Homo sapiens: one gene and its partners. The protein of the gene in region 3 binds, or shares a complex with, the protein of the main gene of each other region. Each region holds a gene or a part of one and is shown on either strand. Other genes may lie near its edges. A codon is read from its position in the direction of its gene.

Region 1 (7,027 bases), on a different chromosome or scaffold from region 3:
TTCTTGCCAGATATGGCTGTTTAAGGCCTTCCACCATGATTGTAAGCTTCCTGAGGCCTCCCCAGAAGCCAAGCAGATGCCAGCACCATGCTTCCCATAAAGCCTGCAGAAATGTAAGCCAATTAAGCCTCTTTTCTTCATAAGTTACCTAGTCTCATGTATTTCTCCTTTACAGCAATGCAAGAACAGCCTAATATACTTTTTTTTTTTTTTTTTTTGAGACAGTCTTGCTCTGTTGCCCAGGCTGGAGTACAGGGGTGCCATCTGGGCTCACTACAACCTCCACCTCAGCCTCTGGAGTAGCTGGGACTACAGGCACATGCCACCACACTCAGCTAATTTATTTTAAACTTTTAGTAGAGATGAGGTCTCACTATGTTGCCCAGGCTAGTCTCCAACTCCTGACCTCAAGTGATCCTCCCACACTGCTCTCCTAAAGTGCTGGGATTCTTTCATTTTGAGAAACTATCTGTAAACAAAGTGACAAGAACAGGAAGTCTCATTTGAGTCCACTGTCCTTTTCCAGAAATGAGTTAGGCACAACCAGTTCTTATTAAATATTTTAAAACTATCCCTTTTTATACAGAATCGTTTCACTCTTTAAATAAAACTTTGAGGTAGGTTTTATTATCTCCACTTCCTAGATGATGAAACCTGAGGCTCAGGAAGTACTGTAACTTATTAATACTAAGTGGCAAAGCCTTTTTCTTTTCTTTTTTTTTTTTTTGAGAGCAAGTCTCACTCTGTAGCCCATGTTGGAGTGGCGTGATCTTGGCTCACCGCAACCTCTGCCTCCCGGTTTCAAGAGATTCTCATGCCTCGGTCTCCAGAGTAGCTGGGATTACAGGCACATGCCACTGCACCTGGCTAATTTTTTTAAATAAGTAAATAAATAAATAAATAAATGTATTTTTAGTAGAGATGGGGTTTCACCATGTTGGCCAGGCTGATCTTGAACTCTCGACCTCAGGTAATCTGCCTGCCTCAGCCTCCCAAAGTGCTAGGATTATAGGCGTAAGCCACCATGCCCGGCCGCCTTTTTCTTTTTTGAGACAGGGTCTCACTCTATTGCCCAGGCTGGAGTACAGTGGCGCCATCCAGGTTCACTGCAGCCTTGACCTCCTGGGCTTAAGTGATCCTCCCATCTCAGCCTCCTGAGTAGCTGGGACTATAGGTGTGTGCCACCACGCCTAGCTAATTTTTGTATTTTTAGTAGAGACAGGGTTTCTCCATGTTGCCCAGGCTGGTCTCAAACTCCTGGGCTCAAGAGATCTGCCTGCCTCAGCCTCCCAAAGTGCTAAGATTACAGGCATGAGCCACCACACCCAGCCCAGAGCCAATTTTAGAATCCAAGCCTACCTGATTCCAAACGTTATACTCTTTGCCACTAGTCTAACAGACTCTAACACTGAATTAAGTATATTGATGGAATTCAGTGTTGCCACTTCACCCAGAAAAAAAGTTATCAAGAAAAAAGCAAAATATTTGGACACTTAAGAAGTAGGTGGGTGGCCAGACATAGTGGCTCATGCCTATAATAATCCCAGCAATTTGGGAGCTGAGTGCAGAGGATCGCTTGAGCCCAGGAGTTTGAGACCAGCCTGAGCAACAGAATGAGACCCCATCTCTACTTAAATAAATAAATAATTAAGAAGTAGGTGGGAAAACAGTGTTTCTCTACTCAGTTTATTCACTCTCACTTCCTGGGCAACAGAGACCCCAACTCGACTTAAATAAGTAAATAAATAAATAAATAAATAGGTGGGGAAACAATATTTCTCCATTCAGTTTATTCACTCTAATTTCCCTTCAAGGTCTATGAAGCGTTCCAGGTATATTTTTACCTCTGTATCCTCTGTGGTTCCAGTTCCAGCTGAACTTGTGACAATCCCAAATCGCTCCTTCCTCTTTTTCAGTTTCTCATCATCTTCAGACTGTTCAAGGACAAAGGAAAGAGTTGAAACAAACTAGCCTCCATTCACCAAGTAAATGGGAATGAAATGATAACTTATTGGTCACAAGGTGCTAACCAACCCTGTGCCAAGAACTAAGGATCACATAAAGAGATAAGATACATAAGAAACTGAATAAGCTAGCATATACTATGTTGTACCTAGAATGACTAAAAACTTAATTTTAGGCAGGGCCTCAATACTCATAAGACAAGTAGGGTAAAGAAACAGTAAGAGGCCGGGCACGGTGACTCACACCTGTAATCCTAGCACTTTGGGAGGCTGAGGCGGGTGGATCAGGCAGTCAGGAGTTCAACACCAGCCTGGCCAAGATGATGAAACCCCATTTCGACTAAAAATACAAAAAAATTAGCTGGGTGTGGTGGCGGGCGCCTGTAATCCCAGCTACTAGGGAGGCTGAGGCAGAGAACTGCTTGAACCTGGGAGGCAGAAGTTGCACTGAGCTGAGATTGCACCACTGCACTCCAGCCTGGGTGACAGAGTGAGACTCTGTCTCAAAAAAAAAAATAATAAATAAAATAAACAGTAAGAAACACCCATAAAACAAATTTCTATGCTCAAGCAATTCTGGCAGTTGAGGGATATGGAAAACTGAGGTTTCACTGAATAACACCCAAAGTTACACCTAGTAACACCTAGTTAGAAGGTACCCAAACTACTTGTTGAACAATGCTTACACGTTACCAAGGAAAGAAAGGGGAAGAGGGCCAGAGTGGTATTTCTGAAAAACTTATTTGCTTGAAACACCCAGCAAAGCCATAGAAGGCTCTGAATAGTTTGAAATGATTCTTAAAACAGGTGAATCAAGGTGACAGCCATGGTCAACTCTCTAAGAGAAATGCTGTGGACATTTTCCAAGCATCTGTGAAACTCATGATGTCTGCCTGGGAATGAGAGAATATTTCAGTTTACCATGAGTTGGAGCTCGCCATTATTCTAGGTGTTTTGTATCATTCATGTCCAACACTGCTCAGTATAAGAGTCTATATATTTTCCTATCAGAACCTAAACCCTACCATTTTATTTAGCCCACTTTAACAGTTATTTTCTCTTTCTCCACCTCCCCCTCACATCTTATCACCAGTCATCAGAAGCTCAGCCTCAGGATTAGAAAACATCTGAAATCAGGTAGGCTCCTCGGGTGTCTTTCCCCCAGGAAGGACTTTCTAAAATTTGGCACATATATAAAAAGATCTCATTCTCTCATAATCTCAAGAGACCCTCTACTCCCTAGAGATGTACCCATCCTCACTAAAGAGCAGGACAGTTTCTTTGACTTTATTTACGTTGTTAACCCAACAGAAGGACAGATAAGCAAGAGTTCAAACAAGGGCACAGTGGCTCACACCTGTAATTCCAGCACTTTGGGAGGCCAAGGCAAGCAGATCACTTGAGGTCAGGAGTTGGAGACCAGCCTGGCCAACATGGTGAAACCCATCTTTACTAAACATACAAAAATTGGCCAAGCATGGCCGCAGGTGCCTGTAATCCCAGCTACTTGGGAGGCTGAGGCAGGAAAATAGCTTGAACCCAGGAGGCGGAGGTTACAGTGAGCTGAGATCATGCCATTGCAGTCCAGCCTGGGTAGACAGAGTGGGACTCCGTCTCCAAAGAGTTCAAACAAACTTTTTTTTTTTTTTTTTTGAGACAGAGTCTTACTTCGTTACCCAGGCTGGAGTGCAGTGGCACAATCTCAGCTCACTGCAACCTGTGCCTCCCAAGTAGCTGGACTACAGGCATGTGCCACCATGCCCGGCCAATTTTGTATTTTTAGTAGAGACGGGGTTTCTCCATGTTGGTCAGGCTGGTCTCGAACTCCCAACCTCAGGTGATCCGCCCACCTTGGCCTCCCAAAGTGCTGGGATTACAGGTGTGAGCCACTGCGCCTGGCCTCAAACAAACTTTTAAAGAATGTCTGTGTGGTGCTTCTGAGCTGGATTTGTTTTTAAATCCCAAGGAAATTATAGTCCTACAGTCTATAGGCAGGCTGTGTCTCTGGGTGTCCCAAAACTACAAGGTCAAAAGCAAAGGTAACAAAAAGACCTACAGAAATATACAGCAATTTTTCAATGCCTCTACTCTCAACCCCAACCAAGGAGTTGTCTTTGTCCCTGTGGCCACAGCAGCCACCTGTACAAATCAAAAGCAGGGCAGCTATCCAGCTTTCTGTGCTCAATTTAACTAGTCCACCTGTCTGAACACAGCAGGCAGGAGTACTGTCTTGGTCTTTAACTCTTTCAGCTTGAGAAAGATGTTCATTTTCTCCCTTTTGCTGCACCTGCTTTCTAGTGAGTAGGAAGAGACCTAAGAAAGAATGATGGTTATGAAGCAATTAAGAATCCTATACAAGTTATCATTTAATCACAGTTTATTACTAGAATAAACTACTGCCTACACAGTTTTTCTGCCTTTCTCATTATGACCACCAGCAAATCCATAGCGGGTACCTCATTAATGTACTCTGAACTATTGTAAAAACATTAAGCCAGGTTCAAAGAAAAACATAAGTATTCTTGTCCTTAATAATAATAAATTAAAATAATAACATTATAGCCATGAACATCTGAGTGCTTAGTATATGCCAGGTACTGTGTGCAGTTCTTTACACATGCAATATCTCATTTACTACTTTTTTTTTTTTTTTTCCCCAGAGACAGAGTCTCGCTCTGTCGCCCAGGCTGGAGTGCAGTGGTGCCATCTTGGCTCAATGCAGTCTCCACCTTCCAGGTTCAAGGGATTCTCCCGCCTCAGCCTCCTGAGTAGCTGGGACTACATGCGCACGCCACCACACCTAATTTTTGTATTTTTAGTAGAGATGGGGTTTCGCCACGTTAGCCAAACTGGTCTCGAACTCCTGACCTCAGGTGATCCGCCCACTTCGCCTTCCAAAGTGTTGGGATTACAGGCGTGAGCCACTGCATCCAGGCTCATTTACTACTTTATTTTAATTTTTGCAGAGAGGGGGATCTCGCTATGTTTCCCAGGCTAGTCTTGAACTCCTGGGCTCAATCAATCCTCTTGCCTCAGCCTCCCAAAGTGCTGGGATTACAGGTGTGAGCCACTGTACCTGGCATCATTTACTTCTTATAATAATCCTATGGAGTAGGCACAGCAATTAAATTCATTTCATAGATAGGAAAATTTAGTCTTGGAGAGATTAAGTGACTCACCCAAAATTTCACAAATAATACGAGGATTGGAATCCAGGACATTTTACTCAGGAATCCACTTTCTTAGCCTTACCACCTCCTCAAGGTATCTCACTTAAGTATTTCTTTGGAAGAACAGTAGGACAATTAAGTGCTTAACTCCCAAGGAGGAAGGATCACTAGAACCCTTAGCTAAAAAAACTTGTAAATTTTAATCACATCACTCAAATAATCAGGTCAAGAATACTAGGACCCCTTCTTCTAACGTACCATATACCTACAATTTATAAGTAACAGTATCTAGGAAAAGGGCTCCAGTTAGTAATCTTGTACTAATGTTTTTCTCAGCTAAATCTGGTTCTAATTTTGCTTAATTGGCTATTCCATTTGTTGAGATGTAATAAAAGAATAAGGGGCTGGGAGCAGTGGCTCACATCTGTAATCCCACCACTTTGAGAAAATCCCAGGAAGGATCTTCTAAAATCCTGAGGTCGGGAGTTCGAGACCAGCCTGACCAACATGGAGAAACCCCGCCTCTACTAAAAATACAAAATTAGCTGGGCGTGGTGGCGCATGCCTGTAATCCCAGCTACTTGGGAGGCTGAGGCAGGAGAAGCGCTTGAACCCGGGAGGTGGAGGTTGCGGTGAGCCGAGATCTCGCCATTGCACTCCAGCCTGGGCAACAAGAGCGAAACTCCATTTCAAAAAAAAAAAAAAAAAGAATAAGGCTGGGCGCAGTGGCTCACACCGGTAATCCCAGCACTTTGGGAGGCCGAGGCAGGCAAATCACAAGGTCAAGATATAGAGACTATCCTGGCCAACATGGTGAAACCCCATCTCTATTAAAAAAAATACAAAAATTAGCTGGGTGTGGTGGCGAGTAGTAGTCCCTACTCGGGAAGCTGAGGCAGGAGAATCACTTGAACCCGAGAGGCGGAGGTTGCAGGGAGCCAAGATCACGCCACTGCACTCCAGCCTGGCAACAGAGCCAGACTCTGTCTCACAAAAAAAAAAAAAAAAAAAAAGGAAGGTTTCCAACAAACATTAAGTCCCACCACATTTTTTACTAACAAAGTCAAGGGGGAAAGTTTCCTTGATCTACTACCACTAAGATAAAGTGAATACGGAATATAAATGGGGATTTCAAGTTGAGAACCTCTAGAATGTTCTAGTTGATATATCTTCACTAAGTCTCCCGGCCAAGTAGGAAACAGTTTTCAGGAAAATAAATGGAGCCTCTCTTCTTGCGGAGAGGCAAGACTAGACCACTATCTTGTTAAACTACCATTATAAACTTTTTTCCATTCAATTTAGCACTAGCAGTACTTCAGCAAGTTCAAATCACAGAGGAGATAAGACTTTTGAAACCCAGACATTATATAAGCACAAACCCTGAGGCCAAGCCCTCCCCCAACGTATGTCCACTTGGAATGTGCGGGCCAGTTTTGCTTCTCCTGGTTCTTTATTTGGCTATATCCTCAAATGGGGAGTCTGATTTCCCCATTAGCCACCTGCCTCGCTGCCCACGTTTTTTAGAGACAGGGCCTCACTCTGTTGCCATGCTGTCGTGCAGTAGCATGATCATGGCTCACTGTAATGTTGAATCCCTGGGCTCAAGTAATCCTCCAACCTTAGCCTCCTCAGTAGCTAAGAACTAAAGGTATGTGCCATGCCTGGCTAATTTTTTTTTTTTTTTAATAGAGACAGGGTCTTGCTATGTTGCCTAGACTGGTTTCAAACTCCCGGACTCAAGCAATCCTTTCACCTCGCCTCCCAAAGTGCTGGGATTACAGGCATGAGCCACCACACCCAGCCTAGCTTCCCTTTTAAACAAGATCTTTGGTGCCTCTTCAGGAGATACAGGCAGAGCATCTGTTCTAAACCCATTAGGGGTTCCAGGGGAAA
Region 2 (7,027 bases), on a different chromosome or scaffold from region 3:
ATTTTTTATTTTTACTATTTGTAGAGACGGGCGTCTCCCTATGTTACCCAGGCTGGTCTTGAAGTCCTGGGCTCAAGCAATGCTCCTGCCTCAGCCTCCCAAAGTACTGGGATTATGGGCATGAGCCACTGCCCTGCACCCAGTCAGAAATGCTTCTCTTGAATAAGCAGTTATTAGAGGAATTAAACATTCAAGAACCCTAACATGCCCCCAAACATCGTTTCAAGACTTTTAACAACTTCCTAAAATCCTTCAAGGACTTTTGGAGACAAGATCTCACTCTGTTGCCCAAGCTGGAGCACAGTAGTGCAATCATAGTTCACTGCAGCCTCAATTTCCTGGGCTCAAGCTATCCTCTCACCTCAGCCACCAGAGTATCTGGGACTACAGGCATACACCACCACACCTGGCTAATTTTTTTCTTCTTTGGTAGTGATGAAGTTTCGCCATGTTGCCCCGACTGGTCTCAAACTCCTGGACTCAAGTGATCCACCTCCCTCAGCCTCCCCAAGTGCTGGGATTACACACATAAGCCACCGTGCCTGGCCAAGGATCTTAATTTTTGAAGTTTATTTTCCTTGAGGTTATTGAGGACATACCCGTGCCAGCCATAGAATAGAAAAGCAGCTCCCACCTTACTCATGCTCAGCCCCTAAGATATTTATACCCTCATTATTCTCTCCCACATCACACATGTGATTTCCTCAATAAAAGTGTACTTAATATCCAGGTTTCTGCTACAGCTGGAGTGCTCCAATGCTCATCCCCCTACTGGACGTCTAACTGACCTGGTTGAACTCAAGGACATCCAGAAGGTCAAAGAGCTTCCGGTTCTTCTCGTTGTCCTTCAGTTTCACGTAGTACTGCTGCAACCCATGCAGCGTCAACTTCGTCTCATCATCCACGAAGATCTCCATTGGCTGGGGGGGAGGAAGGGGGTGGGGAACGGGAGGAGGGCAGAGTGGGGGGGTTAAACCTGGGGGGGTGGAGGAAGTTGATCTCCAATACACCCCATGGGGGGATGGGGAGGAAAGAGAAGATTGAAAACCCCACCCCACTCCCAAAAATACCCACATTTTACTGTGGTCTCTCTCACATTACATCTAATTTCCTTCCTATCAGATGAGTTTTAAGACTGCCCAACTAAAAACTATCATGGGAAAGAAACTGCAAATGAAGTCAAGGAGCAGTGAAACCACCCAATGGCACAGATGCCATTACCTCAAATAGAGGTGGGAGAGGAAAGAAAATGGGAGATGATTCTCAAAGGGAGAGCAAGGACCAAACATCTGGGAAATGATGGGAGGCAGTGACTCAAGGTCAGAATAACTCCATCAGAGGTGCTTCTAAGAACATGGGGTGGGGGGAGGACAACTGCTCCATTTGATTCTCCTACTTCAACTAAGAGAATCTCGTGTGCATTAGCAAAGTGGATGTCTTTTAAGATCAGAATGCTGCAATGGACAGTCAAAATGCCACTTAAGGAGAAACAAAAATTACTCAAGATGAGTTACTTGCCGTCAGACCACAACAGGATAGTTTTAGATGAGACTGGTCTCTTGACTAAGAATTAAACCATCTACAGGTTTACAGGAAAGGTATCAGTAAGTGGTGTTAAAATACCAAATTCAGAGCAGCAGATACACTTTTAAGGGACAGGATCTCACCATGTTGCCCAGGCTGGAGTGCAGTGGCTATTCACTGGCACAATCATAGCACACTATAGCCTCAAATTCCTGGGCTCAAGTGATCCTCCTGCTTCAGTCTCCTGAATAGCTGGGACTACAGGCACACACCATTATACCTCACTGCATTCATCTTTAAAATTAAAAAACCCCCTGAAGGGGAGGAAAGTAACAAAGACAGAAATTACCACAACTCCAAAGCCCAACTTTCCTAACACTTTTTATACTATCCTGGGGGAAGATAGTTAATATGAAGACCCAGAGGACAAAATAGGAAAGGATGCGTGTGTCATGGGAAAAAAACCAGAAGCCCAATCCCAGAAGGCAGGTTTTGTTTTTTGTTTTGTTTTGATACAGGGTCTCTCTCTATCACCCAGGCTGGAGTACAGTGGCACAATTACAGCTTACTGCCACCTCCACGTCCCGGGCTCAAGCAAACCCTCCTGCCTCAGCTTCCCAAGTAGCTGGGACTACAGGCATGCGCCACCACGCCCGGTTTTTCTGGTAGAGACAAAGTCTCACTACACTGCCCCAGCTAGTCTCAAATTCCTGGGCTCAAGCAATCCTCCCACCTTGGCCTCCCAAAGTGCTGGGATTAGAGGTGAGCCACCAGGCCCAGCCAAGGCAGGCTTTCTAAAGAGAAGTTCCATGGCCTCCTTCAAATCTCATTCTAGCCCCAAATACAGCTAAAGAGTGATCATCCCACGGGAAGGAACACTGCAGGGAGGGGAAGAACACACTCCACTGCTTATGCAATTGGCCCCACCTAGCCCCAAACCCTAACAACCACCCGATTACATCCACTTTACCTTTCCTATGTCCCTCTCCTCTGAGTATTAAAAAAAACAAAAAAATTTTTTTAAGAAAAAAAATCTACCACCCCATTCAGGACACCCCTCCCCAACACATATTGGGGGAAACGGGGCACGGCACGCGTTGGGTTCAGGAAAAAAACCGGGAACGGAAAAAGAGGCTGGTTTGGTCCTCAGCTTCCTGGTCAGGTTTCCCCGCGGCCTCCGCTGCCGCCATCCACCGCTGGGTGCCGTCTGCATTCCCTCGCCGCGCCACGGTGCTTCTCTGTTGCCGGCTCACATCAACCGAGGTTCCAGATGGGTGCAAGGAGATGTGGGTGGGAAGGAGTAGGGTATCGGGGATTGAGGTGCCAAAGGCCCCCACCCCTGGAGGTGGGGAAGGGGAGGATTCATTTGTGCTGATGCTCTTCTTTTGGACATGCCCTGCCATCTGTCTGTCCCTCTCTTGCTCTCCTGCCACCGGGAAGTAGGAGTTTTGGTGAGCAGAAGGCTCCAGCTGTACGCTCGATGCCACCTTGAGGGTGCGTGGCTGTAGGGTGCATGTAAGAGACGATGGATGGGTGGGTGGTAGGGCAGAAAAATCCTGCCCTCCCCCAAAGGGAGAAGAGGTTCAAAAATGTTGTGATTTATGAAAAAGTCGAACACTACCCGCTCTCACATTAACCCGACCAAGTCTTCCGGAGTTTCCCTGGCACCCGCGCAGGCCCTAACACTAGCTGTCTCTGCTTCTGTATGTCTCTTCAAGGAGTCATTACTCCCAGTTGGGCACAAGCCGCCTTCTTGGCACTTGAATGACAAGGGAGTCTGAGGAAGAGGGCGAGGAAGGGGAGGAGGCAGCGGGCGGGGAGTGGAGGGAGAGAAGGTAGAAGGGTATTTACATCTTGCATGAACTTGCGGCAGACTGGACGGATCTCTTTGCTCAAGGTAGCACTGAACATCATGACCTGCTTCTCGTGGGGGGTCATGCGAAAAATTTCCTGGACATCCCGACGCATGTCTACAAGAACAAGGAAAAAAATTGTAGGAGAAAATAAGCAGGTATGATAAACAAAGATTAGAGGTAGACTTCCCAGTGAGGTGAAGATTGCTGGAAATAGTAACAACACAATGGAAAGAGCAATGGACTTGGAATCAAGAAGTGGGATCAGATTCCAGCTGTTTGTTTTAACCAAGCAAGAAATAAGGTAAAACCCCAAAGTTCCCAACTATGAAATGGGGATAAAGCCCAGTGCAGAGGCTCTCAAGGCCTTCAAAACATGCTTTATGGGACCTTCTCCCAACCCTTTCCTGCCCAAGCCCCAGCCAGCCTTCAGCAGACTACAAATATCAAGCACATATTATATTCCAGATATCAGAGTCCATCTATGACTCTCTGGATTACTTTTCTATCAAGTCAGGCAAATATGACATCCCTACCTGGAGCCCACCTTTATAGCTCACCATATAGAATTGCCAAAGATCATTTGTAATGACTTATGGGGCCTATGTCCAACCCCACTCTCATTCACCAAGATTCAATTCTTACAGAAAAATCTTCCATTAACCCCACCTGGCACACTAGAATACCACATCACACAAACTGCTACAAACACTCTCTACATTAATCCCAGACCTGAGTCTAGACACTTATTCAGCTATAAATTCTGACTGTAAATGCTGTGCTGGAGATGCCAGAAGGGTACTGTCTTCTCTTTCAGTTTAGAATCTCCGCTATGACTCCCAGTATATGAATCTATAATGAAAACGGTGGTGGTGGTGATGACTTATGCCTAAAATTATCAAAGTCCCCTATTCTCAAAGGTTAAAAACAAAAATCATAGAAAGATGATAGATGACACCCTTTACTGTGCTTAAAAGCATAATAAAGACCAACCAGGGAACCCAGAGCCATCAGTCATGGGTGATAGATAAGAGTCGTCCTTGCACTGAGGTGCTCCTGTTTCAAATAAACATCATTTGGCTCCAAAGAACAACTCCCCAGCATTAGCCAAGCCCCAGCACTGCCACTCACCGAGCTGTTCAAGCATCTTATCACATTCATCCAAAATAAAGTGTTTAATGTGTTTGAGGTTGAGGCTCTTATTTCGAGCCAGGGCTAGGATACGGCCTGGAGTCCCCACGACGATATGCGGGCAGTTCTTCTTCAGCACCTCTTCATCCTTCTTGATAGACAGACCACCAAAAAAAACAGCAACCTGCCGAGCCAGAAGCAAAGAGTCTCAAAACAGAGGAAGGAAAGAGTCCAATCCCCCCAGGGTTCCCACTCTGTTTGAGCTAAACCAATTTTTAGCATGTTTCCAAACTAAAACTAACTTTAGAGGGCACCTAATTTAAAAATTTTATGTCCCCCCCACCAAACACTGAGGGTGATTGCCTAAAGTTACATGGCTAGTCGGAGCAGTCAGGACAATAATTCAGTTCTACTGACTTAATCTAACCAACTTCCTTCATTTATGAGGCCAGGCTTCATTTAAAAAATAAAGGAGCCAGGTGTGGTGGCACACGCCTATAATTCCAGCTACTCAGGAGGCTGAGGCACGAGAACCTGGGAGGCAGAGGTTGTGGTGAGCCAAGATCCCACCGTTGTACTCCAGCCTGGGCAACAAGAGTGATACTCCATCTCAAAAAGAAATAAAATAAATAAAAATAAAATAAAGCCAGGCCCAGTGGCTCACGCCTGTAATCCCAGCAGTTTGGGAGGTCAAGGAAAGTGGATCACTTGAAGCCAGGAGTTCAAGACCAGCCTGGCCAACACGGTGAAACCCCATCTCTACTAAAATACAAAATTTACAAATTTACTACTAAAAAACAAAAAATACAAAATTTAGCCGGGAGGCTGAGGCAGGAGAATCGCTTGAACCCGGGAGGTGGAGATTGCAGTGAGGCGAGATTGAGCCACTGTACTCCAGCCTGGATGACAGAGCGAGACTCCATCTCAAAAAATAAAAAATAAATAAATAAAGGACAGCAAGAAATCACCAGATTAGTGTAAAGTACCACAAAAAACACATGGAACATTAAGGTTTCCTAAATAAACCCAGAATCTCAAACTCTTTTCACACAAACCCCATGAAATTACTGCTTCGGGCTAAATATTATCATTTCATGTTAAAACCATTAGGTGAATAGTTGTTTGGGGATCTGGGCCTTGGTACAGTATCAAATAACACCAGAAACTACTTTCTGGTTTCAAGGGGGAAAAGAACAACTGTGGAATCAGACTGTCACGACGCTAATCCTATGGTAAATCTAAAATCATTAATGAGGCCAGGTGCAGTGGCTCACTCCTGTAATCCCAGCACTTTGGGAGGCCGAGGTGGGTGGATCACTTGAGGTCAGGAGTTCGAGACCAGCCTGGCCAACATGGCGAAACCCTGTCACTACTAAAAAAAAACAAAAATTAGCCAGGCATGATGGCACACTGTAGTCCCAGCTACTCGGGGGGTTGAGGCGGGAGAATCGCTTGAACGTGGGAGGCGCAGGTTGCAGTGAGCTGAGATCGCGCCACTACACTCACAGCCTGAGGGACACAGCGAGACTCCATCTCAAAACAAATAAATAAAAATAAAATAAAATAACTAACATAAGTCGACCAGATTTGTGGCATAACAGGAGATACAGTATCACCTATGAAGGATTCTTGCCAAAAATGCTTAACTTCAATCAGATTTTTTCTTTTTTTTTGAGATGGGAGTCTCACTCTGCCACCCAGGCTGGAGTGTAATGGCACAATCCCAGCTCACTACAACCTCTGCTTCCTGGGTTCAAGCGATTCCCCTGCCTCAGCCTCCCAAGCAGGTGGGACTATAGGTGTGTGCCACCATGCACGGCTAATTTTTGCATTTTTAGTAGAGAGAGGGTTTCATCCTGTTGGCCACATTGGTCTTAAACTCCTGACCTCAAATAATCCACACGCCTTGGCCTCCCAAACTGCTGAGATTACAGGTGTAAGCCATTGTGCACTTGGCCAGAATCCTCAATATTCACACACCACTGGAGCTGTTTTAAAGTTTCCGGCTTTCTCTGCCACATACCCCAAAATTATTAAACTGATATGATTCAAAGTCAGTATAAAGTAGTAAGAAAAGGGTGGTCTTGTGTTAAGCATCATCCATAGCCCAATTACGAATCCTCCTGTTACATAGGAACTCAACACTCTGTTACACCACAGCAAACTAAAGCTTCTCCAAAATTAAAGAGACTATTGGCCTACAAGTTTCTTATCCCTCCAACTTGCCACACCCTCACTCTCAGGTCTCTTTACCTTGGCTTACCTTGACATTGGGCATGTATTTAGAGAAGCGCTCATATTCCTTGCTGATCTGAAAAGCCAACTCCCGAGTGTGACACATCACCAGTACAGACACCTTAGGCAGGAAGTAGACGGAGACATATGGTAAATGTAGCTCTTCATTATCCCCTCTAGGGAAGTGACTGTCACAAAAACACACCTGGGCCGATAATAAATGACTTCAATTATGTGATCTAAATCATGAACCCCACGCTTGCGACAGAACATCCCCCACAGCT
Region 3 (6,463 bases):
ATTTGTACTTGAAAGTTACCAAGAGCCAGATGGTAACATTGCCCTTCTTTCCTGCAGACGAAGTTATACGGAAGCGTCTCCTCATTGATGGAGATGGTGCTGGAGATGATCGGAGAATTAATCTGCTAGTGAAGAGTTTCATTAAATGGTGCAACTCTGGGTCCCAGGAAGAGGGGTATTTCATTTTCACTGTTGTTTCCATACCAGTGTCCTAATGTGATTTTAGGCCCTATATTAAGGTCCTGTGAGTAGATCAAATTTTCACTCACCTTAAATGTACAGTGGAGTCAACTCTTAATTAACCAAGAGTAGATTTTCTTGGCCTTTTCTTCTCTTCAAAGGCCTCTCATATGTTTATTAAAACATGGAGAAGGCAGATTGGTAAGGAGAAATGAAGATTAAATTCAGACTCATTAGTTTGGTTACTTTTAGGACATAAGTGTTTAGTAAGATAAAATATCTAAATGGAATTTTCTCCTTTGCTAATAAAAGGCTGCTGCTATGTATGTATATATTAAGTTGGTGCAAAATTAATCGTGATTTCTGCCATTAACTTTAATGGCAGAAATGGCAGAAACCACGATTACTTTTGTACCAACCTGATACACACGCACACACGTATATCTAATCTTTTTTTTTGTGAGACAGAGTCTCATTCTGTTGTTCAGGCTGGAGTGCAATGGCACAATCTTGGCTCACTGCAACCTCCGCCCCCCAGGTTCAAGCAGTACTCGTGCCTCAACCTCCTGAGTAGCTGGGATTATAGGCATGCAACACCATGACTGACTAATTTTTGTATTTTAGTAGAGATGGGGTTTCACCATGTTGGCCAGGCTGGTGTCAAACTTCTAGCATTAAGTGATCTGCCCACCTTGGCTTCCCAAAATTCCAGAATTACAGGCATGAGCTACCACGCCTAACTATATTTATTTATTTTTTAACATAGCAAACTTTTTCTCATTTGAATTTGCTTTCCATATAAATAATTTTATAGAGTGAAAAAATTGTGGGAACAGAATTGTGAAGTTAAAAAAACATCTTAAAGTATTTCTAAAGTCTTTTAAACAAAATTCAAATAATTGTTTGAATAAAATGTGCATTGATAAGAACAACAATCCCACCTTTGCATTTGTAACTAAAGTAGTTAAATTCAAGAATACTACATTTGATAAAAAGAAAACTTAAGGGACAGATATTCTAAATTTTAAATAAGCAAATGATTCTCTCAGAACTTGCTATAATTTAATTAGCAAATATTTGTCTGCATTATAACAGTTCACTTTTGTCAGTCCACAAATATCTTTATTTTGGTTTTCTTTCTTTTTCATTAGATATAGCCAGTACCAACGTATGCTGAGCACGCTGTCTCAATGTGAATTTTCAATGGGCAAAACTTTACTAGTATATGATATGAATCTCAGAGAAATGGAAAATTATGAAAAAATTTACAAGGAAATAGGTAAAGAATCTTAATGTTTCTATCTGTAATTTTATTTTTTATGGTCTAAAGGAAACAATACCTGCTAACAATTTTCTTTGGTGGTAAAAGAATAATAACAATTACTGTATTAATGGAAAGAATACAGTAAATGTTAGCTATAAAAAATGTGTATTCTAAGATGATATAGTACTTTGGGTTACAGCTATTTTTTAAAAATACTAGTGTCTATTTTGTTACCAATAGAGGTTAATTTATAAATGCGTTTTAAAATTAAAAATGGATTATTGATTTTGTTACAACTATCTTTTAAAAAACCTTCTCATATAGAATGTAGCATAGCTGGAGCACATGAAAAAATTGCTGAGTGCAAAAAGCAAATTCTTCAAGCAAAACGAATACGAAAAAATCGCCAAGGTAAGGGTTTTGAGGGATTTAATGTGCAAATACATTATTACTGACTACAGTTTTCATGCAGTTTTTAATGTTGTGAGGTAAAATCTGCAGCCTGAATCAACCTGGATTAAAAAAAATCCAAATTTTAATTCCTTAAAACTATATTATTCTTTAAAATAGAGAAGGAAGTCTGTGTTGAGAAGAATGTTTTTGCTGGATTACATTGATTATCCAAGTATTTCTTTTCTGTTTTTCTCTTTTTTTTTCTTATCCCAGTATTTCTTAAGTATTAAATTTTTACCATCTTGGACCCTTTTGCCTAAATAATGTTATGGTTAATCAGCAGAGGCAATTTACATAAATATACTAGATTTATGGTTTGGGTTTTTTGTTTGTTTGTTTAATAGAGCTACTTTCCAAAAAATGAAATGGAAAAGAATTTAAACTCTGAGTTTTCATTAAGTACAAAGCAAGCAAACATTTCTAGACTGCCTAGAATATCTAATAAGAAGGTTAAAGTTGAGTTTTGTTATAATCTCTTGTTTTTAAGTTAGAGTATACCCTTATGTAGTTCCTAAATACTATTTCAAGATAATTTTTAATGTTAGAGGCACTGCTCTTCTTATAATGTAAATTGAAGAAAAGTAAAAATAAAAAATATAATGTGTAATCACAACTGTTACATTGATATGAAAAACTAGAAGAAAATAGAAAATGTTAATGGTTATTTTGAAGTTGTGGGTTTTTATGGCTTAGGTTCTTTTCTCTGTTTTTGTGTTGTTTTGTTTTGTTTTACATAGGGCATGTATTATTTTGTAATTCAAAAAATTTGTATCCAAAAGAATCATACTTTGAATTAATATGCTCAGTTCTAAAACAATGAATTTTCACTTTTTAATGAACTAATTAAGATGAAGCTTAATTTCCTCTTTTTACAAGTTTTTTTTTTCAGTTTAAAATGTGTATGGTGAAGTTTTGGTGCCTTATTTACAGTAACATATACCAACTTAGTATCAGTTCTAAAGTCATCTAAAAATATTTTGCAGTGTTTTCGTTGGTTAATGAGGCTTTTAAGTAAATCCTGCCACTCATCACTTCATAAGAAAGCTTAACAGGAGTTACATGACTTATCTTGGAGGTCTCAGTGGAGCAGAAAATAGAACCTGAATTTTAAGTTATTTGCAAGTTTCTGAAATCTTAACTTTTGGAATGAGTGAGAAGTGTAATTTGCTGTTGACTAACAACTCAGATTAATGGTAGGATATATTCACTGATTGTATTTTATTTTATTTTACTTTTTGGACAACTAGTGAGTAAGATCCTTCTCAGAATCAGTCTATTTGATAATCAATAATAACTTAAATTTGCTTATGCTTATGCTGACCTCTTACGTTCTGTCCAGGACATATAAATGGAAAAAAAGTGGGAGCTAAAACCCCTGTTTGGAACACTTTTGATGTTATGTATCGTTATAATTATAACTCAGTTAACTAAAACTGGCAATACTCATCTTTCAGTGATTTCATTTCTTGATGTACTAGGAAAGTGATTAGGAGAGGTTTGTGATATTACACATTTTGTTTTGATAATTCACATTCAAAAAATCCTTAGTTTGATAAATATTTTTATGTCTTACAGAATATGATGCTTTGGCAAAAGTGATTCAGCACCATCCAGACAGGCATGAGACATTAAAGTAAGTGTAGAGCTTTACTTTGAAAGGAACTAACCTTTATACATAAATGCTCGAAAACTACCGTAGGCATTTCATTTTTGCAGAAATAAATATGTTTCAAAAGGAGGGGTCAGATATTCAATATTATATTTTCCCATACTTCTCTGTTAGATTTTATTTTCCTCTAACCTTACCAGCTATATGTCTAAAATAAATGCATATAATATGCATCAATATCACAATGGATAAATAGAATATGGTCTTCATATATTAAAATATTGAATTTCAGTTAAAAAGAATAAACTAGTTATGCCCTTTTAAAACACAGCTCTCAAAACATAATCAGTGAAAAGACACATAATAAACTTTAAATTATATTTAAATTCCTGAAACACATACAGAATAATAACCATTTATAAAAGTTAGAACCCCCTTTCAAATATTATATACCAATACTGTGTATTATTCAGGGATACAAGTATATGCATAAAAAAGAATAAGAATGATATAGTAGTTGCCTGAGTGGGAGGTAGAGGAGATAAAAAGGCCCAGGATAGAGGACTAGGCGTAAGATTCAAAGGGTATTTCGAGTTAATTGGCAATGTTTTATTTCTTTTACCAAAATAAAAAACCCTCGAAGTTAAACTTCACAATATGTATCATTTCTTGGGTCTTGTTATTCTGTTATCTGTATTTTTCTGTACTTTAAAAATGGATCCAAAAATGTAATTTTAATGAAAGTGAGTCCATATTTAGAAGTTAAGAAGAAATCATCCTCAGCTTTAAAAGTTTCACCATAATGGAGTGTTATAACTCCTTATAAGCCCTTTTTTTATTTTAAAAATCCTATCTAGTAACTTAAAAGTTAGGCATTAATTGTAAACTCTTCTCCCCCATTCAGCAAAATGTAACACTGTTTTATTATTTCCAGGGAACTAGAGGCTCTGGGAAAAGAATTAGAGCATCTTTCACACATTAAAGAAAGTGTTGAAGATAAGGTATTCGCATATATATTTAGCCTTCATGATCTGTCTATCTGTCTGTCTATATATCTATATATACAGGTCATTTGTATAAATTTTTTTCTTGTTAACACAGCTGGAATTGAGACGGAAACAGTTTCATGTTCTTCTTAGTACCATCCATGAACTTCAGCAAACATTGGAAAGTAAGTAGAAATAGTCTCAAAGTAAATGCTTATGAAGATTTTTTAAATGACCCAGGGATGTACCTTTTGAAATATACATCTTGGAGAGACAGTATACCTTCAATTTCTGAACAGTGTAGCTGGATGACGTTAGAAGGTACTCATGTTCAACTTTCTTGAATACATGTAGAAAAGTCTTAATTTGTAGTAATATAGGATTTAAACATATACATAGTGGTTTAAATTAAGAAAAATTCAAGGATGATAGATTTGGAATCTTTCTTGGTTCACTGTAGTTGACTACTATAATATAACAACTCAGGACCCAGGCAGGCAATAATAAGAAATCAGTACATACGAACATTTGCATACCCACTGAGTAGTGGGTGCTTTGGGGAACTGGAGACTTGCTCTTTATATTCACTATAGGCAAGTGGAAATTTTTGTGTTACCTGATCTTCTGATTGTTTTAAAGAATAGCCTAAGACCCATTTTTTCTTTTCTTTTTTTTTTTTTTAAGACAGTCTTGCTCTGTCACCCAGGCTGGAGTGCAGTGGCACAATCTTGGCTCACTGCAATCCTCACCTTGCAGGCTCAAGTGATTCTCCTGCCTCAGCCTCCCTAGTAGCTGGAATTACAGGTGCATGCCACCACACCCAGCTAATTTTAGTATTTTTAGTAGAGACGGGGTTTTACCATGTAGGCCAGGCTGGTCTTGAATTCCTGACCTCAGGTGATCCACCTGCCTTGGCCTCCCAAAGTGCTGGGATTATAGGCATGAGCCACCAGACCCTGCCTGGATTTTTTTTTTTTTAAGTGAAGTCTATCACATAAATTTTAAAGTTTGATTCAACTAGTAGCCATCTTAGCTTTAATTGTATTGGCTAATAAAGGATAAACATGTTTTCATGTGTTCATCGAATATAAAATATAGGCAAACTTGACTAAGGTTTTATGTTTCCTTCTCAATTACAGATGATGAAAAACTCTCAGAGGTAGAAGAAGCTCAGGAAGCAAGCATGGAAACAGATCCTAAGCCATAGACAGGCTAATTGCCCACCACTCCCAGGAATATTGAAATAGCTACATGACCATAATGTGTTTAAAATGTGGTATGCTCTTGAGATATTTAAAGTTTTGGCAGTAAAATACTCTGTTTTTAAGTATGAATGTATTTCATTCATATTTCCTCTCACAAAGGAAAATGACTTCAGTATAGATTTGTTTTTATTAAAATGCATTTTTTATTCTTAAGTGGTAGGAAGCAACATCCAAAAATGCTTAATAAAATGCTTTTAAGCTGCATATGTTTGTGCTCATTAATATTCTAGGTAGTTTTTAACTGGTAACATTGATTGGCTTACAAAATAAGTTGAAAATTGTTAGAAGTTGGCATTTCTAGGATGTACATGGGAAAATGAGCCAATTTCTGGAAATGGTTACACTTCTGAAAACGGAGTCTATGAAGAGGCTTTAGGAGGACCATGAACCTGTGAAATTACATGCAAAATGTTAGTGGTGTATGCTTATTGTGGAGAGAGGTTCCAGGCTGTTAAAATTCGCTGGTATGGGACGTTAATTATAAGATGCAAAGTAAAATAGTGCACATTACTTTATATATCTCTCCTTAATATGAGAGGAATATGGTTCTCAAATGTTTTGTTGATCTGTTTTCTCTACTGTTTTGTTCTTTAGGAATCATTTTCAATAGAAAAAGATGTATTGATAAAGTGAAGAGTGTTTGAAGTAAATAGTTTGTTAAGATTGTTTTGCGTAGGCCAGGCATGGTGGCTCACACCTTTAATCC
Region 4 (7,027 bases), on a different chromosome or scaffold from region 3:
GCTCACTGCAACCTCCGCCTCCCAGGTTCAAGCAATTCCCTTGCCTCAGCCTCTTGAGTAGCTGGGACTACAGGCACGTGCCACCACACCTGGCTAATTTTTTATATTTTAGTAGAGACGGGGTTTCACCATATTGGCCAGGATGGTCTCAATCTCTTGACCTCATGATCCACCCGCCTCGGCCTCCCAAAGTGCTGGGATTACAGTCGTGAGCCACCGCACCCACAGCCCTGTTGAACTTTAAATTACATGCTGTACAGAAAATTATCAGTTACTTCTTTATCAACTCATGTATTTCCTGTAAATGTATATTCCAATGTGTTTTTCCCTCATTCTAAAACATGGGAGCTTGTGGATCACTGGTTTTTCACATGATTAAGTCAGTTTTTTGCTCACATAGTGACAGCAATTTTAAAGAAGATGTCAACTAAAGGGTATGAAAAGTTGATCTATGGTACTTACCGGTAATTCCTTGGCTAGCTTTATTACCATATTTTCAAGATATTCTGGTAAACTTTTAAACTGCTGGTTGGTTGGCTGGAAGAAGTGAGGGCTTCTCCGTGCTAATAGTCTCAGGGCTCTCCAACCATAATTTGAATTGTTCACAGCCCTATAAAAAGAGGTGTCAGGCTTGTAATTTATAGCTTTGTATTTCTGTATTCCCTTCTGCTCAGTTCTGCCATGTGTAATTCTGTATTTAAGGTAAATAGCTCAAAGTGCCATTCTTTGTATTTGAATCTTATTCCTAAAGAACTTTTCAGTATGTAGTCCACTGATAATAACAAACCAATAGATGCACATGTAACTAATCACAGGAACCAACAATGCCTGAAGAGGCAGGCTCATATGCAGCAAACACATTTTCAAAGTTTCCGTTCATTTTGTTTAATTTTAACAAGTCAACAAGTGTGTGCAGTACTGGCTGGATGCAGTACGTATACAACAGGAATCATCCATCTAGCTATTTGGAATCCATGAACTGTTCCCTAATGAAGTATAACAATGATCAGGGTGGTATACCATCAGGTGAGAAACAAACTGCAGAGAAATTCTAAAGATAATGCGTCAGAAATATGCAATGCTGCGGAAGAAACCAAACCACAAATTTATTCCATTTAAGAGTTTTGGATTGGAAGTCTCTTCCTCCCCTAAGAATAGCAATTTGGTTTATTTGGTCACCTCTTATAAATAAGCATATGTTACCTTTAGGATGTGCAGGTACCACTGAAGACTTAACAAAAACTACCCATAGACACTGGGGACTCTTCCCAAGTTAACACCTGCTGTGAGGCTTTGCCTAAACAGTTAAGAGCCTTCCTCTCTGACATATCTGTTTAGACAATTTGATTATTTTAGGCATTTTCAAAATTCACTGTCAATTATACACATCATTTTTCTTATTCTCCACAAAACCCTCTTTGGAGATAATAATTTGAACTATCACTTTAGGAATGAGTCCACCTAGTCTTATGTAACAGTGATAAATTAATATTCTTTCAATCGACAAACACTTTTGAGCCAGGCACTCAGTAGCTGTGGAGAGTACCTGAGGCACAGTAAGGCAGGCATTGCTAGTGATAAACACACAAGGTATAAGACAATTTCATAAGGATGAGGAAAACTTGAGAAATGAGAAAGTGGTAAGTGCCACCTTCTCATTTGGATAGTGGTAAGTGCCGTGAAATAAAAACCACGAGAATGCAAAAGAGGAGACCAGGGAGGGGAAGAGCTTCCCAGCCAGGGGGACTTTAAGCCACGGCAACCTTGGGGAAAAAGTGGTTCAAGCAAGTGAGACAGTAAAGTGTGAAGGTCCTGACAGGAAAGGGAAAGACAGGACCAAGAGGCCTGCTGTGGTTAAAGCAGAGGGGAGGCATGGCCACACAGGAGAGTATGAGCCAGACCAAGGAGGTCTTTTAGGCCCTGGGAAGGAGTTTGGAATAGGCACTCACTGGGAGATTTTAAGCAGATTAGACTTGGACAATTATTTTAAAGATCACTGGCTGATGCATGGAGCACTGACCACAACTAGAGAGATTAGTTAAGAGGTCACAGTAATTAACAACTCTGGTCACAGGGTCACACTAGTCACAAATACTGAGTGCTAACCACATGCCCTGTAGGGTTCAAAGTGCACTGTCTTATTTAATCCTCAGAATAACCCTGTGAAATGGGTACTGTTACTATTTAACAGATGAGGAAAGGGAACTGGCGGTTTAATAATTAAATTAGCCTTAGTTGCCTAGTAAGTAAGTGGTAGAGGGAATCGAACCTATGCATTCTGACCAGAGGCCTCTTGCCTTTAAACCACTACTCTTCAATTCCTATTTAAAGCCATGAGACTGCGGTGTCACCCAGAAGGTTCTAGATAAAGAGGCTAAGACCAATTCCTGATGTTACTCCAAAATTTGAGTTAGGCAGAGGATGAGGAGGCTGAAATGGAATGTGAGGTGGAGTGGGCAACGAGGGCAAAGGGCAAACAGAAGAACCATGGATTTGGATTCTCATGGACGCCAAGAGAAGAAAACATTAAGGGGAACAGGATAGGTTAACAGCTGCTGTGAGATACTGTGCTTTGAAGGGTAGAGAGAACAGAACTAATAGTTGGAGAGAAATGGGGATCAGGGGGAGTTTTTTTTTTCTTATATTTTGAAACAAGGGTGATTCCAAGTCATGCTTAGTTAACAGGAATAATCCTTGAAATCAGGATGTGTACTAACAAGAACTTGGAACATAAACTCACCTAAGAGAAAAAGCACTATTCTATCTACTGCCTCTCTTAAGAGGCTTTCTAGTATACACACAATTCCTAAGGAAGAAACAAATTGAAGAAAATTAAAAGGAGCTAATGAGGAGCATACTTACTTATATTCATTTTCCACCATATTTTCAGGGTCTGCCTGTTCAATGGCTTCTTCAAAGAATTCCTCCAAAGTGGGCATGTGTTCCCTGAGCGGTACAAAAATAACCAGTGAGGATGGCATATATTCTTAATAATAAATACTCATGAAGTGGTGGCAGGACAAGATTGTGGGCATGTGTTCCCTGAGCAGTACAAAAATAACCAGTGAGGATGGCATATACTCTTAATAATAAATACTCATAAAGTGGTGGCAGGACAAGATTGTGGGCATGTGTTCCCTGAGCGGTACAAAATAACCAGTGAGGATGGCATATACTCTTAATAATAAATACTCATAAAGTGGTGGCAGGACAAGATTGTGGGCATGTGTTCCCTGAGCGGTACAAAATAACCAGTGAGGATGGCATATACTCTTAATAATAAATACTCATAAAGTGGTGGCAGGACAAGATTGTGGGCATGTGTTCCCTGAGCGGTACAAAATAACCAGTGAGGATGGCATATACTCTTAATAATAAATACTCATAAAGTGGTGGCAGGACAAGATTGTGGGCATGTGTTCCCTGAGCGGTACAAAATAACCAGTGAGGATGGCATATACTCTTAATAATAAATACTCATAAAGTGGTGGCAGGACAAGATTCTAATGGCCCCATACTTTTAGTTACAGTTTTGATTACGTGGGAACTCCAGACTTTTAAGGAAGTAAAACCGTCAAAACTAAATTCAAAAAGGACAATAAATAAAGGGGATAGTCTAATACTAAATATTACATAGTATTTACTACATATAATATTATATACTTTAATTACACACTATAATATATAAATATGTTGCTATTCAAAGAGGGCAGCCAGGGTATTTTATAGCATTTGAATTTTACCAGCAAATAAACTTTTACATTAAGTCCCTATCCACGAATTATTTTTTCTTTAAACCAGAATTAAACCAAAACTAATAATCAGACCATAATACGATTTCAAGGGTTTAACCTTTAGCTCTTATTTAAATTGTTACCATGGTAGCATGGTTGATTTTTAAAATGCATCTTTCTTGAATTTGTTTTTAGAAATAAAATTTTGATACAGGGTCAAGCAAAGAAATGAGGTCTCAGGATCAGAAGACATCTTCTAGAGTAAAACTAGGAAAATGGGCTCTTTTAAGAAAACTATCCCAATATCCATTCATTTTCTAATGCTACAGATACTATATTCCATTTTATGAACATGCCCCAAGTTATCCATGTCCTACACAGAGATATTTGTCTTCCCACTCTTTGCTCTGACAATGTTAAATGAACATTCTTGCACCTGTCTCCTTGTAGATGAACTGATTTCTTTAGGCACTGGGCCTTCAAACTTCCACTGCAACCCACAATAAGAAATTCATTTTACACTGCAACCCAGTACACACATATATGCAAGTATATGTACAGATATATATAAGTAAAGCTAATGCTTCACAAAAGTATATTTCCTATTTCATTTAAAAAATGCTAGTTGAAATTACTAAATTGACTTTACAAACCACCAATGATTCTCAAACTTAGTTTTTAAAAACACTATTCTGATCAACACACCTACTAGTGGGGCACAGACATCTTTAACATTCAGATAGAGTGACTGTGCCATCAGACTCCTACCAGCAGCACTGGCAAATTATTTTTATCCATAATTCTTATAAAATCTGGGTATTTTTAAATTACTGAATCTCTTAGCTGGAAACTGCTTGCTGTAGTTTTTAACTGTACTTCCAGTTACTAGTGAAGTTCCCCGTCTTCTCAGAGGTTTATTAAGGTTTCTACTTCTGAATCTGACTATTCATTTGTACATTTTTCTACTGGGTTGATTCACTCTCACAGATTTGGCAGGAATCAATCATGTTAGAATTTTATCTATTTTTCCTGGTTTTTGTTTTTATTGATCTTCTCTTTTGATTTTGTTATCTTCTCTATTGTTTGTTGTCTATTTTACTGATTTCTAATCTTATTTTACTTTCTACTTCTATGAGTTTACTTTTCTTCTGAATGACTCTCAGTGTCAGACTCTTATTAGCTTGGTTTTTAGATTTCATTCTTTTTGAAAGTGTAAACACTTAAGGCTATACATTTCTCTTCTGTGTTCTACTGAGTTAGATCTCAAAAGTCTGAACATGTAGTGTTTTCATTATTATTTAGCTCTACATTTTCCAATTTCCATTATGACTTCTTTGATTCAAGGGTTATTTAGAAGTGTGTTTAAAGGAGTTGTAAGTATTTTTGCTTTTGCTATTCACACATAATTTACAAAAACTTGTGGTTTCTGTAAGACCAAGCCTGTTAATTATTTTGTTAAATTCTAAATGTATTACACTAAGTTTTTTCCACCAAATTTATTAAATTCTGAGAAAGGTCTGTCAAAATCCTACTAGATGGTAGGTTTTCTGGGTGGTGGTGGATGGTGAAAACTGACCCTGGGTCAACTTCTCATTCTAATTTTGTCAAATTTTTGAGAACACATTCTTAGAAAATAAAGTTTAAAATGTGTATATTTCTATTTTTTCCTTTTATCTTTATGCAATGATTGCCTTTATTTTTAATAATGCTTTCTGCTTTTAAGCCTTTTCTGCCTGATATCAATATAACTATGCCTTTTAAAAATTACGTCTTTTAAAAGTTCTTTCAGTTTCAACCTTTCCATATCTTTATTTTTAAGGTATATTTCTTATAAACATATAGATGGATCTTTTTTTTTTTTTTTTTTTTGAGACGGAGTCTCGCTCTGTCGCCCAGGCTGGAGTGCAGTGGTGCGATCTCGACTCACTGCAAGCTCCGCCTCCCAGGTTCACGCCATTCTCCTGCCTCAGCCTCCCAAGTAGCTGAGACTACAGGCGCCTGCCACCACACTTGGCTAATTTTTTGTATTTTTAGTAGAGACGGGGTTTCACCGTGTTAGCCACGATGGTCTCTATCTCCTGACCTCATGATCCGCCCGCCTTGGCCTCCCAAAGTGCTGGGATTACAGGTATGAGCCACCGCGCCTGGCCGATAGATCTTTAAAATATAACACCAATTTCTGTCTTTGAGCCAGAAAGTCCATTTCCATTTATATTTGAATTTAACCATACTGTTTTGTACTTTCTGTTGTGTTTTCTGTGCTTTTTTCCTCCTCTCCTACCTTCTAATTTACTTGCTTAAATTTTCTGTATTTACTTTTACCCCTCAATTTATTTAAAAATTACATATTCCATTTCTTTCACATACTTTACAAGCATGTTTGACTTAAACCATAACATTCTTTAATTCTGACCACCCCTTCTTGTCTTACATGTCACTTTTATCAAGTTTACCTTTTAAAATAACCCTAAATAATAATTATTACTATTTTATAACAGTGAATTCTTGATAAGATTTATTCAGATTTCTTCATGTTTACCAAAGTGTCTACACAGTAATCCTTTCTGCAATTTACTCCTTTCTGGGTTCAGTTTCCTTAAGACAGCTTTTTTACTGGGGACTGTTGATAATTTCTCATAGTTTTAGTCAATCACTCAACCACAACTGTTTAACTTGTTACAGAATTTTTTAGTTGAAATGTTGAAAAAGCAAGTAATACTTCTAGAAATGAGAAAATATAGTCATTGAATTTACAAAACGAGCAGGTTTAACAGCAGTCTGGACATAGGGAAAGTAAGAATTACTGGATTAATGATTAAGAAATCACCCAGAAAGCAATACAGAAGGAGCAAGAGTTGGAAACGATGAGTTAATGATAGTTGAGGAGGTCCAGCAAACATCTAATGGCAGAAAGAAATAATAGAGAATGTGAAAGACATTTTCAAGCACTCATCCCACTGTCTTCTGATTTTTGTTGTTCTTGAAGTCAACTGTTAGTTTAACTTTGCTCCTTTGTAGGTTGTCTGTTTTTTCTCTCTGGTGACTTTATTATCATGTACAGAGATATGGATTTATTTGGTTTATCCTCCTTAAGTATTATACTTCTTGAACCTATGAATTCATGCCTATTCTTAATAATTAACTCAATTATTGCCTCTTTCCCATTCTCTATTATTTCTTTCTGCCATCAGATGTTTGCTGGACCTCCTCAACTATCATTAAGTCATCGTTTCTAACTCTGCTCCTTCTGTATTGCTTTCTGGGTGATTTCTTAATCATTAATTAACCCATTA

Evidence for each region.
Region 1: THOC7 (region 3) and SARNP share a complex: the UniProt entries of both Homo sapiens proteins name them as parts of the transcription/export (TREX) complex.
Region 2: THOC7 (region 3) and DDX39B share a complex: the UniProt entries of both Homo sapiens proteins name them as parts of the transcription/export (TREX) complex.
Region 4: the proteins of THOC7 (region 3) and THOC1 are in contact, whole or in part, in a cryo-EM structure (PDB 7APK), measured with the Homo sapiens proteins. Residues at the interface, in NP_079351.2 of Homo sapiens: Tyr47 (codon at 1,333), Gln51 (codon at 1,345), Leu54 (codon at 1,354), Ser55 (codon at 1,357), Ser58 (codon at 1,366), Gln59 (codon at 1,369), Phe62 (codon at 1,378), Gly65 (codon at 1,387), Lys66 (codon at 1,390), Leu69 (codon at 1,399), Val70 (codon at 1,402), Met73 (codon at 1,411), Arg76 (codon at 1,420), Glu77 (codon at 1,423), Asn80 (codon at 1,432), Ile84 (codon at 1,444), Ile88 (codon at 1,456); in NP_005122.2 of Homo sapiens: Leu10, Arg14, Glu46, Gln53, Arg56, Glu60, Ile63, Ile64, Asp99, Asp102, Cys103, Leu104, Pro105, Arg146, Gln151.

What each region holds. Positions count from the first base shown.
Region 1 is NC_000012.12:55,758,707-55,765,733, forward strand, and holds part of SARNP (SAP domain-containing ribonucleoprotein), read right to left. Parts: intron 1,935-7,027; coding exon 1,845-1,934; intron 1-1,844. UniProt on the Homo sapiens protein: Binds both single-stranded and double-stranded DNA with higher affinity for the single-stranded form. Specifically binds to scaffold/matrix attachment region DNA. Also binds single-stranded RNA. Enhances RNA unwinding activity of DDX39A.
Region 2 is NC_000006.12:31,531,992-31,539,018, forward strand, and holds part of DDX39B (spliceosome RNA helicase DDX39B), read right to left. Parts: intron 6,865-7,027; coding exon 6,772-6,864; intron 4,693-6,771; coding exon 4,509-4,692; intron 4,459-4,508; exon of another isoform or gene 4,383-4,458; intron 3,495-4,382; coding exon 3,376-3,494; intron 921-3,375; coding exon 789-920; intron 1-788. UniProt on the Homo sapiens protein: Involved in nuclear export of spliced and unspliced mRNA. Component of the TREX complex which is thought to couple mRNA transcription, processing and nuclear export, and specifically associates with spliced mRNA and not with unspliced pre-mRNA.
Region 3 is NC_000003.12:63,833,368-63,839,830, reverse strand, and holds the end of THOC7 (THO complex subunit 7), read left to right. Parts: intron 1-57; coding exon 58-175; intron 176-1,331; coding exon 1,332-1,459; intron 1,460-1,768; coding exon 1,769-1,855; intron 1,856-3,472; coding exon 3,473-3,530; intron 3,531-4,440; coding exon 4,441-4,507; intron 4,508-4,607; coding exon 4,608-4,677; intron 4,678-5,631; coding exon 5,632-5,699; 3' UTR 5,700-5,961; downstream 5,962-6,463. UniProt on the Homo sapiens protein: Component of the THO subcomplex of the TREX complex which is thought to couple mRNA transcription, processing and nuclear export, and which specifically associates with spliced mRNA and not with unspliced pre-mRNA.
Region 4 is NC_000018.10:216,024-223,050, forward strand, and holds part of THOC1 (THO complex subunit 1), read right to left. Parts: intron 2,947-7,027; coding exon 2,863-2,946; intron 611-2,862; coding exon 463-610; intron 1-462. UniProt on the Homo sapiens protein: Component of the THO subcomplex of the TREX complex which is thought to couple mRNA transcription, processing and nuclear export, and which specifically associates with spliced mRNA and not with unspliced pre-mRNA.